Homo sapiens: one gene and its partner. The protein of the gene in region 2 interacts with the protein of the main gene of each other region in a biochemical or structural test. Each region holds a gene or a part of one and is shown on either strand. Other genes may lie near its edges.

Region 1 (7,276 bases), on a different chromosome or scaffold from region 2:
CTCCTATAGTATCATTATCATATGATAATTACTTAATATATCAAATATGTAGTTACATTCAAATTTTTCCAACTATCTCAAAAATGTCTCATGTAGCTGGTTTCTTCAACCACAATCCAACCAATATTCATGCATTGCATTTGCTTCAACCTGGGAAAGCAAACAAGGCACTACACATTTACATTTTCCAAAAATACTTAACACAGTTCACCTGGTCAAAAGAGATAATTTCTTCTAAGTTTGGCTCCATGAACTCCTGGAGAATAATCCTAAGAACAAAACCTACCTGGGGGGCTGAGAAGCTGAAGAACTTCAGTGTGTTCCATAGCCTGCAGGAAATCACTCAATTCTGTGACTGTGCAACCTTTTTCACCCATTAACTTCAGCAGACACAGGCTGGGGCTTCCTTCAGGCTCCAGTACCTTAAGAGAACACTGCTCCAGGTCTAGGCAACTGAAAGCAACAGAAAGAATTCAAGTCAACAGCTTTCTTCCACATGATACACCTGCTATATATCTGGACCACGGTGGTGCTGTATGGAATAAATCACAAGTGAGTGGGTGGGTGGTGACAAACTATTCACATAATGAATGCGAGTATCCTTTCCTCCTCTTTCATCACGGGGAATTCCTCTTTATTCCCTTCTCCCACTCAGCTCCCATGATTATTTTTTTTTTTTTTTTTTTTTTTTTTGAGACGGAGTCTCGCTCTGTCGCCCAGGCCGGACTGCGGACTGCAGTGGCGCAATCTCGGCTCACTGCAAGCTCCGCTTCCCGGGTTCACGCCATTCTCCTGCCTCAGCCTCCCGAGTAGCTGGGACTACAGGCGCCCGCCACCGCGCCCGGCTAATTTTTTGTATTTTTAGTAGAGACGGGGTTTCACCTTGTTAGCCAGGATGGTCTCGATCTCCTGACCTCATGATCCACCTGCCTCGGCCTCCCCAAGTGTCCCATGATTATTAAATCAGGAGAATGAGAAACCCAGAAACAGGATGTGAGAGAAATTGAGCCTTGATACTGACAAAGGTTTTTTTGCCTTTAATTTAGGAATGGGGAATAGGAAGGCCAGAAAAATTTCCTTACTCCTTCTTCAAAGATGATGAAATACAAAATGACCCCAAATGAAGCGGATAGAACAATCAGTGTTACAAGGTTAGCAATTGAAAAATACTAAAAATATCCTTAATTACTAGTTTAAATAAATTATGGCATGTATATCAAATGAAATACTGTTAATTCATTAAAAAAACTGAGCCTGAGGTAAAGGCATAGGTCTTTAAGACATACTGAGAAATGAAGGAATTAACATAAAAAACTGTGTATAATACACTACTATTTGTATTAACAAGGTAGTATGTCTATGTGTGTATTCATATGAAAAAAGGAAGATACAGAACAGCGTTTGTTATTACCAAGATCATTTGTGTGTGTTCTTATACATGGAGAGTAAACTCTGAAAAGGTATCTAAGAAACTCGTAGCCATAGTTGCCTCACAGAGGGTAAGACAGTAGAGCTCATGGCTGGATGATCTACTTTTCACTATAACCCCTTTTGTACTGTTGATTTTTTTATGTGCATTTATTTTTTGATAATTTTTTTTTAATAGAGATGCTGTCTTGCTATGTTGCCCAGGCTGGTTTCAAACTCCTGGGCTCAAGCAATAATCCTGCCTCTGCCTCCCAAAGAGCTGGAGCCACCACTCCTGGCTCTTTTGATAATTTTTAAAAAGTATATTTAGAAAGAGAACCAGTACTATTGACATTCAAAGTACTTAGGCTGGGCACGGTGGCTCACACCCGTAATCCCAGCACTGTGGGAGGCCAAGGCACGCGGATCTCATCAAGCCAGGAGTTTGAGACCAGCCTGGCCAACATGGTGAAGCCCCATCTCTACTAAAAATACAAAAGTTAGCCGGTGTGTGGTGGTGCACGCCTGTAGTCCCAGCTACTCAGGAGGCACAAGAATCGCTTGAACCCAGGAGGCGGAGATTGCAGTGAGCTGAGATCATGCCACTGCACTCCAGCTTGGGCGACAGATCGAGACTCGGTCTTAAAAAAAAGAAAGAAAAAAACCAAAGTACTTCTAAGTACCTAGAAATATCCTATTGCAGGGACCATGGCCTGTGGGCCAAATGTGTTCAGCTACCTGATTTCTGTAAATAAAGTTTCACTGGAGCACAGCTACACTCATTCATTCACATATTCACAAATGTCTATGGCAGCTCTCCTGATACAACTGCAGAGCTGAATACCTGGCTGCAAAGCCAAAAATATTTACCATTGGGCCCTCTATGGAAATAGTTTGCTAACCCTTCCTTTAAAGAATGTCTTATTGTCCTTTTATTAAAACTATTCTTTTAAAAATACCAGTATTTAACATACATATACAATTTCCTTTTCCATGTTATTGTGTGCAGTAGTGGTATACCAGATTAGAAAGACAGGTTAAGATCAGATCATAGAAGGCCATGAAGAATGGAACAATGATATGAATTGTAATCATTTTATAGAAGGGGAAAGTACAAGTATTAAACATTCAAGGGGAGACAAAAGAATCAAGAAAAAACCGAGCAATCAACGACAGAAAAACTTTCCCAAAGAAACATAACCAACAACAGCCAACCAAAGTGTTTAGATAATCTGCATGATATACTGTAGAATTCACACCTCATCCATCTTTGCAGATCCTGCTCCTTTTCCTGCCAATTTGAATTACAGTCCCATATTAACTCTAGCTTCTCTACAAGGTCCTCCTAGACCACACCAGTCCACCAAACACACTTTATAGACACAGTCTCCTAACTGCACTTATTTTATAGACAACTGTTTTTCTAAGTGGCCAGCAAGGATATATTTTAGATATTCTGGGCCATAGAGTCTCTATCACACATTCTTCTTTGTTGTTTTTTGTTTTACAATTCGTAAAATACAAAAACCAGTCTTAGATCATGGGCTATATGAAACGGGTAGCAGCCTGGATTTGGGCCTTAAGCAGTCATGTGCAGACTTGTTTCATGTTTTATCTCACATAATTTCACCTTAGAACGGTGAGCTTTTCTTCATGAGCATGAAGAAAAGCTGCCTTATCCAACTAGATTATAGTAAACTCCTTGAAAACAGAAACCCCATCATATTAAACATATATGTGTGTGTATACACACACACACGCAGACATAAAATCCCTCAATACCTAAAATTCTGTCTTGTCCATATTAATTATGCATTAATGAATGATTACTGAATGAATTTCAATCATAATTGTCAAGGCTGAAAGCCTGAACAGATGCAAGAGGTGAAACATAATAGTGCCAGGGTGTGACAGAATCAAGGTTAGCAAACTATTTTATTGCTTGAAATATTAATCCTCATTCATTTTGAGTAGTCTTATGAAGATGCTGTCATAGCATTTATACTGTTACCCAAGATTTAAAATTCAGTGATAATGTTGATTATTTCATATGGAAAAAATGTATACGATCAAATTAATTTCATTAGTAATATTATCTACCTCATAGGGTTGTTAGAATTAAATAGCTAATCCATGTAAGAAGTGCTTAACACAGTGCTTGGCAAGTAACAGACATTCAATAAAGGTTAGCTCTTATTATGCAATAAGAATATGGGGATATTAAAAGAATATTAAAGCTAACTTCTTAACTATGCTTATTTCTGAAACAATTTTAGCTTTTCCTTAAACATTTTTTTGAGTAACTATTATTTTGGTAACCTGAAAATGTCCTCTAAGGCCTCCTGTGATCACTATATTTACTAGGTATTCTTTTCTAAGCATCCTAGTTCAATTTTATTATATTCAATATGCCATTCTTGTTAAATGTGAATCATCATATCACAAGTCAACCAGTCTCAAATTCTGGACTGTAGACCAGTGGCAGCACAATCTGCAGTCCAAGGTAAAATGATAAAAATAAGGACAATAAAGCTGTCTTTTATTCTAAAATTGTCTTTTCCATTTTTAGGTGTTAAAGTGTTCTTTCTTTTAAGAAACAATGGTGACTATGATGACAGAAAACATAAAAAGGTGAAGCTGCCTGTTAGTGCTCTTATTTTGTGAAATTTTATTTTACTAGTTTCTGAAATACCCAAGTGAAAGAACCTGTATTAGAAACAATACAAGGATTACTAATTTTGTAAATAATTAGAATGAGATTTGTAAAAATAGGGATGCTGTATGCTAAATATAATTTTTATGATTCAGAAGTTTACCAGGATCTGATAAATGAAATTAAGAAGCCATCTCATCAAATGCAACCAAGTGATGCTTTAATTAATGTCTATATTGATATAGAGAAAATTAAAAACACTTGGCTTTCCTTCCCCCCCAAAAGAACAAAGATCAAATTGAAGTACAGATGATTTCTCTTCCATTACAAGAGGCACAGGAGAAAAAGAAGACTCTGTATCTCTTTTTGTTTTTACTGATTTTCCGTATGGGCACTGGCTTTCAGCTAAGATGATGCTTATACATACCTAACTTTTCTTTCTTTCCTTTTTAAGTTACATTCCTGTAAGAGTGTGCTTTGAAGTAGTTTCTGAAAGTCCTAATTTAGAATTTTTGATTTAATTTAAAAACTGCTTTATGACTGAAACAAATGTACTTTACTTTTTAAAAATATCTCTATTTTTATCTTTAAAAAAATATATAATCAAATAGAATGTATTATACACCCTTTAGGGGACAAACCATAATGCTGTTTTTAGGTTCTTCTGCTTCTCCTCTTGGTACATTTACTATTTGGAATCTTTATTCATTAATTTGATCTATTTCTCCATCACCTAAAATAGGCCACTGTTTTTTCTAGGTGTTGAGGATACAGCAGCAAACAAAACAAAATTCTGTATCTTCCTGGATCTTTCATTCTAGAGAAGTACAGACATAAATTTAAATAAACACAGAGATATCTTTTTGTGTATGTATCCAACTAACCAATGGTCTTAAGTGTTGTGGAGGTAACGCAAGTAGACAGGTAACACTGAGCAGATGTAGAGGGTAATTTTAAATATTATGATCAGAGAAGAGCTCAGTGAGGTGAACAAGTCATGTGGTTACCTGTGGAGACCATCTCAGCCTGAGTAGGCAGCAAGTACAAAGACTACTGTGTCCAAAGGAAGGCAAGAAAGCACATGTGACCAGAGTAGAGAGGGATGGAGACAAGAAGATATCAGGTTGAAGAGTGAACTGGTAGCTAATGGTGTTTTTACTCTGAGATGGAAAAACAATAGGAGAGTTGGCATTTTTTTTTAATGGGGTCTATCTATGTTGCTCAGGCTGGTTTTGAAGTCCTAGGCATAAGTAATCCTCCCACCCTGGCCTCCCAAAGTGCTGGGATTACAGGTGTGAGGCTACCACGCCTGGCCACAATAGGAGAGTTTTGAGCAGAGGAGGAATAAGACCTGATGTGATGTTTTAAAAGAATAATTCTTACTGCTATATTGGTAACAGACTGGGGTGGGAGCAAAGCAAAACAGGGAGAAGTTAAGTGGCTACTGGAATAATCTAGTTGAGAGACAACGTGGCTTGGCCCAGCGTGCCAGCAGTGGACATTGGATTCTACATATATATAGTGAAGGTACAGCAGGAAGGATGGGCTGACAAAAACGATTTGTGTGTAAAAGTGGAGTCAGGAATGAATTCGAAGTTTTTGGACTGAACAACCAGAGGGTGCAGAAACTGAAAGAAAGAGGTTTATAAGGGAAGACGTGTTAAATTTTGGACATGTTATATTTAAGACGTGTCTTAGTCATTCAAGAGAAGATGGCAAACAAGTGTTTACATACGTGAATCTAGGAGTTCAAAGCAGAGAAATGGGCTGGAAATAGAAATTAGGAGTAATCAACCCAAATAAATGTAAAGTCATGGGACTGAAGGATAAGACCAAGAGGGCGAGAAGGAAACCTTTTTTAGTTTATTTGTTTTAGAGACAAGGTCTTCTCTGTCGACCATGCTGGAGGTTGACAATACCTAAATCAATAAAATTCTGTCTTGTCCATATTAATTATTCATAAATGAATGATTACTGAATGAATTTCAATAATAATTGTTGAGGCTCACTGCAGCCTCGAACTCCTGGGCTCAAGCAATCCCACCTCAGCCTGCAGAGTAGCTGGGACTACAGGCCTGTGCCACTATGCCTGGCTAATTTTTTGTTTTTTTGTAGAAACAGGGTCTCAGTATGTTTCCCAGGCTGGGAGGAAACCTTCTGTTAGAGCCTTTTACACGTTCTCATTCCTATAATAAACTGCATGAAAGCAGGATTTCTGCAGCTAAAAGTGCACCTTCTACTCAGCAGGTATGCAATGACTGTTTTTCCATGGTCCAGGTTCCACAGCCCCATTTCTAAGCTCCCTACTTAACAGAATTTTAGGCAGCATTTAGAACCTCCTGGAAGGTCTGCCATCCTTAGGGCTCAGATGTTCCATGCCACCAAAGAATTTACATAGCTTGGGCAAGACCCTCAGAGTCTGTGTCTATCTACACTAACAGCAAAGGGTGTCCAGGTCAGTCTTGAATGGAATCAGGGCCGGGTCTGACTATAGCACATTCCCAAATGTACATGGTTGTGGGGAACTAAGCTATCAACAAGGATTTACTCTGAGTCATCAGCAATGAAAACATTTACAATTATTTCTAATCTCTTGTAGACAGTTTGAACGGGCTCTTTTCTTGTGGTTTACTTATTTGTATTATTAAATTTTCACCCAGTTTGAGGAAAGATGTAAAGTGTCAGAAAAAAAAGTGAAGAGAAGAAAAAGAAACAGAATGGGCAACATTTCGAGATTCTAGGGCTGCAGATCCAGTGACTGAAGAAAGCACTTCACAGCCTCGTGGGACTTGTCACCCACACGGACTAGACACTCACACTATAATTCCTGTCTTTGGCACCAGAGAAAAAATACCTTTAGGACCTTCTAGTATCACAGATCTTCTCCCAACAGCATGAAATCACTTTACAATAACTTTTTTGTCTTAAATAGAGTAAGCATCCCCAGCTGACCTTGCTTCACTGTCCAGCCCCCAAGCTCCCAGTGCTGTTTTTTGAAAAAAAGTCCGTTTAATTCTTCTGATCTCCATAGGGATGAGCTTAACGTTCCCAAATTCTCCAACCCTTCTCACCCCAGCCAACCTCCTCAAAACTAATCTTTACCATCTTGAAAGACAGGTGAAACTCATCTGCCTCTCATCAGACTTCCCACCCCAAATTCTCAGATTCCACAACTGCATGCCCTTTGTGCTTGCCACCTCTTGTTAGGCAACTGTC
Region 2 (7,119 bases):
GCTCGCGCCTGTAATCCCAGCACTTTGGGAGGCCGAGGAGGGCGGATCCTTTGAGGTCAGGAGTTCGAGACCAGCCTGACCAACATGGAGAAACCCTGTCTCTACTAAAAATACAAAAAATTAGCTGAGCGTGGTGGCACATGACTGTAATCCCAGCTACTTGGGAGGCTGAGGCAGGAGAATTGCTCGAACCTGAGAGGTGGAGGTTGCAGTGAGCCGAGATCGCGCCATTGTACTCCAGCCTGGGCAACAGGAATGAAACTCCGTCTCAAAAAAAAAAGAACCACTGTCTGGCCAGGCGAGGTGGCTCACACCTGTAATCCCAGCACTTTGGGAGGCTGAGGCGGGCGGATTACCTGAGGTCAGGAGTTCAAGACCAGCCTGGCCAACATGGTGAAACCCCATCTCTACTAAAGACACAAAGTGGGTTGTGGTGGCGGGTGCCTGTAATCCCAGCTACTCAGGAGGCTGAGGCAGGAGAATTGCTGAACCCGGGAGGTGGAGATTGCAGTGAGTCAAAATCGCATCAATGTACTCCAGCCTGGGTGACACAGCGAGACTCTGTCTCAAAAAAAAAAAAAAAAAAAAAAAAAACACAAAAAACAGACAAAAAAAACCCACACACACACCAAAAATGAACCACTGTTATAGACTGTCTAGTAATAATAATTATTATCGTTATTATTATTATACCACTAACAGTTAACACTTACTGAACCCTTACTGTGTGCCAGATACTGCTTGGAAAGTGTACCTGTATCAATTCATTGAATACTCTCAATTTCCCTGAAAGAGAGGCACTGTTATTCTGTCCATCTTACAGATGAGGAAAACTGAGGCCTGAACTGGGGAACTGACTTGCAGACATTCACACAGGGAGGGGCGATGACAGCAGTATGTAAACCCCAGCTCCAAAGCCCAGGATGGCAGTGATTACCTTCTACTAAGCCACAGTGAATCTCTAAAGAAGCCTTTGCGCATGGATAGGTGGTAAGATTTACCTGTCACGCTTTTTTTTTTTTTTTTTTTTTTTTTGAGTCGGAGTCTCGCTCTGTCTCCCAGGCTGGAGTGCAGTGGTGCGATCTCGGCTCACTGCAAGCTCCGCCTCCCAGGTTCACGCCATTCTCCTGCCTCAGCCTCCCGAGTAGCTGGGACTACAGGAGCCCGCCACCACGCCCGGCTAATTTTGTTTTTGTATTTTCAGTAGAGACGGGGTTTCACCGTGTTAGCCAGGATGGTCTCGATCTCCTGACCTCGTGATCCGTCCGCCTCGGCCTCCCAAAGTGCTGGGACTACAGGCGTGAGCCACCGCGCCCGGCCACCTGTCACGCTCTTAACAGTCCAAGAGGTAAGAAAACCTAGGGGGCCCATCTCAACTGGCAGGGAGGGATGCACCCTGTCAGGAGAAAGCTGAGGTGGACCTCGTGAACCCCCAAACAGAGACATCTCTGTGGAGTCCTCCCAACCTCATCCTGCATGAGCGAGTGGGCAGGAACTGTGGAGGGCTGCTCACCTGTGCTCCTGGAAACGGCGAGCGAGAGTGAGGAGAGGTCGGGGGACCCTGCAGAGAAGGAGAAACGTCTCAGGAGGTGATGGGGGGCAGCCAGAGGACCAGAGAATATCCCAAGGAAGCCCCACCCCTTCCTCTTCTAGCCCTTCCCCTCTGGATCAGGCCCCTCGCCCTGACTGCCCCCCTGCGTCTGGCCAGGCTTACCAGCTAAATCATGGACAGGTCCTGGCCTTTAGTTTCTGTGGTTCGCCCCACCCTTCATCACACTCAGGGCCCGCTCCTTTTCTCCCTTAAAGTTGGGCCTGGAGGGGACCCCATCTCAATCTCAGTTTAAAAAGTCCCCATCCCGCTGGGCACAAGGGCTCACACCTGTAATCCCAGCACTTTGAGAGGCCGAGGCGTGCGGATCACCTGAGGTCAGAAGTTCGAGGCCAGTCTGACCAGCATGGTGAAACCCCGTCTCTAGTAAAACTACAAAAATTAGCCGGGTGTGGTGGCGGGCACCTGTAATTCCAGCTACTCGGGGGGCTGAGGCAGGAGAACTGCTTGAGCCCGGGAGGCAGAGGTTGCAGTGAGCCTAGATCGTGCCACTGCACTCCAGCCTGGGCGACAGAGCGAGACTCCATCTCAAAAGAAAAAAACAAAAAACAAACAAAAAAAAACATCCTCCTGTCAGGGTCAGACCACTTTTAATTTTTTCAATGTCAAGGCTCCGCTTCTCCGTCTGGAGGCAAGCCCCACCCCCTCCTCATTCTCTGTGTCGGGCCCCGCCCTGCTTTTTTGGGTAACAGGCCCTTCCCCTCCACTCGGCCAGAGTCAGGCCCCGCCCCTTCCCCTTCTTTCGGCCAACTCAGGCCCCGCCCCCTTCCTGCCCTCACGGCCAGGCCCCGCCCCCTCACCCCTCAGCGTAGGGCCCTGCTTCCTTTTTTGAGTCAGGCCCGGCCCTCTTCTCATAGTCCGGGTCGGATCCCGCCCCTCTTCTCCCTCTCTGGGCCCGGCCCCGCCCCGATACCGCCCAAGAGCAGCTTTCGCTCCGCCTTCTCTGAGTCAGGCCACGCCCCCTTCTTTGCCTCAGGGTCAGGCCCCGCCCCCTCTCACTCTACAGCGGGACGCCTCGCTCGAACCTCGGGCCGTACCCCCTCATCACCCTCTGCCTTCTTCCTACGCCCTAATACAGTGTCTCAGGAACCCTCACTCTGCCCCCGCGAAACCCTTAGACTCCCATAGGAACCCCCAGACTACTCCGGGACCGCCAGAATCCCCGCATCTCCAGCCCCGCCCCAGACCCCTCTCCTGAACCCCAGCCCCGCTTACCTAAGGCCCCCAGCTCCGGCGCAGCCGGCGGTCTGGCGACGCGGCGACTCGGCATGGCCCGGCCAGTGGGGACGGACGGCCCAGAGGCTGGCCCAGACCGAAGCATGCACGCGGGCCGGCCGGGCGGCCGGGAGGCACGGTCTGGTGGACGATCGCGGGTCGGACGAGCGGCGCAAGGGCTGGGGCCGCAGGCCGGGCAGGACGCGCGGCGCCCGGGGCTGCGCGGGGCGCGGGGCCGGGCCGGGCGGGCGGCGGGCGGGGGCGGGGCGGCGGAATTCCCCGGCGCCGCCGGCCTGCGCGCCCATTGGTCTGCACCCCGCCGTGACGTCACGCCTGGGGAACGGGAAAACCCCCACGCGTCACGTGATCGCGGGGGCGGGGCCGGCCGGGAAAGGGAGGCTGGGCGCTCAGGAGGGGTTGGGCAGGCGTCGCTGCCCATTGCTCTGGACGAGACAACTGAGGCCTGCTTAGAGCCATCACGCCTTACCCATTGAGCAAGCCGGCAAACTGAGCCGCTCCCCGCTTTGGTCTCCCAGTGGGACTTGAACCTGCCGTTTCTCAGGCTGGAAGGGGAGCTTCAGGATCGAGAGGTTGGCAGGGCTCTACACCTGCCATCCATAATAATATTTCGGAAACCTCCAAGGTCTCGCTACACCTCAGTTTCCTCAACCGTAAATTGAGGATGAAGATATTTAAGGAACGTTTAAAGCTAGCGTGTCAGCTTCAGAATTTATGTTTTGTGCGTTGTTGTAACCCCAACGCCTAGACCAGCGCCTGGAACACCGTAGGTGCCCAATAAATGTTTATTGGAGGCCGGGCGCGGTGGTTCATGCCTGTAATCTCAGCACTTTGGGAGGCCGAGGCAGGCACATCACGAGGTCAGGATTTCGAGACCAGCCTGACCGACATGGTGAAATCCCATCTCTACTAAAAATACAAAAATTAGCTGGGCGTGTTGGTGTGCGCCTGTAATGCCAGCTACTCCGGAGGCTGAGGCAGGAGAATAGCTTGAACCTGGGAGGCGGAGGTTGCAGTGAGCTGAGATCGTGCCACTGCACTCCAGCCTGGGCAACAGAGCGAGACTCCCATCTCAAAAAAAAAAAAGTTTATTGGATGAATGCATGGATGTTTTATTTATTGGTTTGTTCCTCCCTGCAGCCCCTGAAAGTTACCCATAAATAGCCCAGACCACTTTGAGCTCAAAAGCTCAGTTATTCAGTCTGCGAATGGCAGCAGTGTAGCCTCCGTATACATCCTGAGCTGTGTGCCTAAACCCTGAGCTCATCCCTATCACCAGCGCCAGAAGCATATGATAGGATTATTGCAGAAGGGACTCAGGCTGAAAGAGGGGCAGCCATTTGGCTAGATCACATTCCTAAGCCTCTCATATTCCTGAGAACGACTAGGTGATCTATTAGGTTCTAAGTTGGATGCCAGGCGCTCTCAGACCACAGATGCAGGGTTTGTTGTCTTTCCTTTGCTTGTATAAAATTTGGGTGTTCTGGCTAGGCACGGTGGCTCACACCTGTAACCCCAATACTTTGGGAGGCCGAGGCAGGAGGATTGCTTGAGCCTGGGAGGTTGAGGCTGCAGTGAGCTGTGATGACGCTATTGCACTCCAGCCTGGGTGACAGAGTGAGACCTTGTCTCAAAAAGAAAAAGAAATAACTCTGTAAGTTGAATGTTCACAACAATTGTGTGAAGTATATGGTGTTATTGATCCCCACATAGCAGATGAGAAAACTGAAACCCGGCAAAATTAATTTCTCCAAGGTCACACAAATTAATAGACACAAATATTTAAAACACAAAATTCTTAGAACAGGGCCTGGCACATGTGGGTGCTATATACAAATGTGAACTTTTTTTTTTTTTTTGAGGCAGGGTGTCACTCTGTCACCGAGGTTGGAGTGCAGTGGCAGGAACATGGTTCACCACAGCCTCAACCTCCTGGACTAAGGGGATCCTCTCACCTCAGCCTCCAGAGTAGCTGGGACTACAGGCACACACCACCGCATCCGGCTAATGTTTTCTTTTCTTTTCTTTCTTTTTTTTTTTGAGAGATGGAGTCTCGCTCTGTCACCCAGGCTGCAGTGCAGTGGTGCGATCTCAGCTCACTGCAATCTCTGCCTCCCGGGTTCAAGCGATTCTCCTGCCTCAGCTTCCCAAGTAGCTGGGACTACAGGCATGAGCCACTGCGCCCAGCCTGTTTTCTATTTTTGTAGAGAGAGGATCTGTTGCTTAGGCTGAGCCAGTGCACCTGGCCAAAGGGCAACTAACTATTAACATCATTTTATTTAATACTCATGACCGTCCTATTATTAGACCCACTTTACAGACGGGAAACTGAAGCTCAGAGAGATGAAGTCAGTTGCCTGAGGCCACACAGCTGGTGAGCTGGGACCACAGGTGTGCGCCACCATGCCTGGCCTAATTTTTGTGTTTTTAGCAGAGATGAGGTTTCACCATGTTGCCCAAGCTGGTCTCAAACTCCTGGATTCAAGCGAGCTGCCTACCTCAGCCTCCCAAAGTGCTGGGACTACATTTCTTTCTTTCTTTTTTTTTTTTTTTTTTTAGTAGAGATGGGGTTTCACCATGTTGTCCAGGCTGGTCTTGAACTCCTGACCTCAGGTGATCCGCCTGTCTTGGCCTCCCAAAGTGCTGGGATTACAGTCGTGAGCCACTGTGCCCAGCCCTATTTCTTTCTTTTTTTTTTTTTGTTGAGATGGAGTCTTCCTCTGCCACCCAGGCTGGAGTGCAGTGGCGCGATCTCGGCTCACTGCAAGCTCCTACTCCCGGGTTCACGCCATTCTGCTCCTCAGCCTCCCGAGTAGCTGGGACTACAGGCGCCCGCCACCATGCCTGGCTAATTTTTTGTAGTTTTAGTAGAGACAGGGTTTCACCGTGTTAGCCAGGATGGTCTCAATCTCCTGACCTCGTGATCCGCCTGCCTTGGCCTCCCAAAGTGCTGGGATTACAGGCGTGAGCCACCACACCCGGTCTTCTTTCTTTTATTTAAGACATGGGATTTTGCTGTTGCCCAGGCTGATCTTGACCTCCTAGCCTCAAGTGATCCTTCTGCCCGAACCTCCCAAAGCGCTGGGATTACAGGCGTGAGCCACTGTGCCTGGCTCTTCAATTTACAGTTATTACACACAGCGTAACAGTGTCAGGCACTGCTCTAAAAGCTAGGGACATAGCAAGGCACACAGCAGACAAAAAGCCCTTGCCATCAAGGAAATCCAAGTGAGGAGACAGATGGAAAACAGATAAGCAAATATTATGTCTGATGGTGATGGCAGTATTACAGGATAGAGCAGGATAACGAGAAGGAGTTCGGAAGATAGTTTGGGTTAGGAAGATCAGGGTCTGAGAGGTGCCATTTGAACAGGGAGTCAAAGGAGGTGAGGGATTCATGTGGATATCTGGGGGAGAGTGTTCAAAGCACAGGGGCTAGCACGTGCAAAGGCCCTGTGGTAGGAACATGCATGGCATGCTTAAGGAATAGCAAGAAGGCTGGTGCAGAGTGACTGACAGGAAAGGGGTAGAGATGAGGGCAGAGTGATGGACCAGTAAGGTGACGAGGACACTGAATAATATTAAATGTAATGGATGAAGCCAACCACATGCAGCACTTACACTAGTGCTTGGCTTATGATAAGGATGACAAATAGCAGCTCCAATTGTTATAGGACCAGAAGCTCTCCTGATTCCTCTCTGCCTCTTGCCAATGCCAGGCCTCAAAAATGTTTGTTGAGGCTGGGTGCAGTGGCTCATGCCTGTAATCCCAGCACTTTGGGAGGCCAAGGCAGGCGGATCACCTGAGGTCAGGAGTTCAAGACCAGCCTGGCCAACGTGGTGAAACCCCGTCTCTACTAAAAATACAAAACTAACTGGGTGTGGTGGCATGTGCCTGTAGTCCCAGCTACTAGGGAGGCTGAGGCAGGACGATCACTTGAACCCAGGAAGTGGAGGCTGCAGTGAGCTGAGATCACGCCACTGCACTCCAGCCTAGGTGACAGAGTGAGACTGTCTCAAAAAAAAAAAAAAAAAAAAAAAGTTTGCTGAATGACTAAAAGGACATGTCAGGGCCAGGCACGGTGGCTCATGCCTGTAATCCCAACACTTTGGGAGGCTGAGGCAGGCAGATCACCTGAGGTCAGGAGTTCAAGACCAGCCTGGCCAACATGGTGAAACCCCATGTCTACTAAAAATACAAAAATTAGCTGGTGTGGTGGCGGGCACCTATAATCCCAGCTATTCAGGAGGCTGAGGCAGGAGAATCACTTGAACCC

The links.
Region 1: of the proteins of RELB (region 2) and MALT1, one has a biochemical effect on the other in vitro, tested with the Homo sapiens proteins (2 studies listed by BioGRID).

Annotation. Positions count from the first base shown.
Region 1 is NC_000018.10:58,674,347-58,681,622, reverse strand, and holds part of MALT1 (mucosa-associated lymphoid tissue lymphoma translocation protein 1), read right to left. Parts: intron 4,014-7,276; exon of another isoform or gene 3,977-4,013; intron 1,152-3,976; exon of another isoform or gene 1,047-1,151; intron 454-1,046; coding exon 287-453; intron 1-286. UniProt on the Homo sapiens protein: Protease that enhances BCL10-induced activation: acts via formation of CBM complexes that channel adaptive and innate immune signaling downstream of CARD domain-containing proteins (CARD9, CARD11 and CARD14) to activate NF-kappa-B and MAP kinase p38 pathways which stimulate expression of genes encoding pro-inflammatory cytokines and chemokines.
Region 2 is NC_000019.10:44,997,391-45,004,509, reverse strand, and holds the start of RELB (transcription factor RelB), read right to left. Parts: upstream 3,047-7,119; 5' UTR 2,931-3,046; coding exon 2,825-2,930; intron 1,562-2,824; coding exon 1,514-1,561; intron 1-1,513.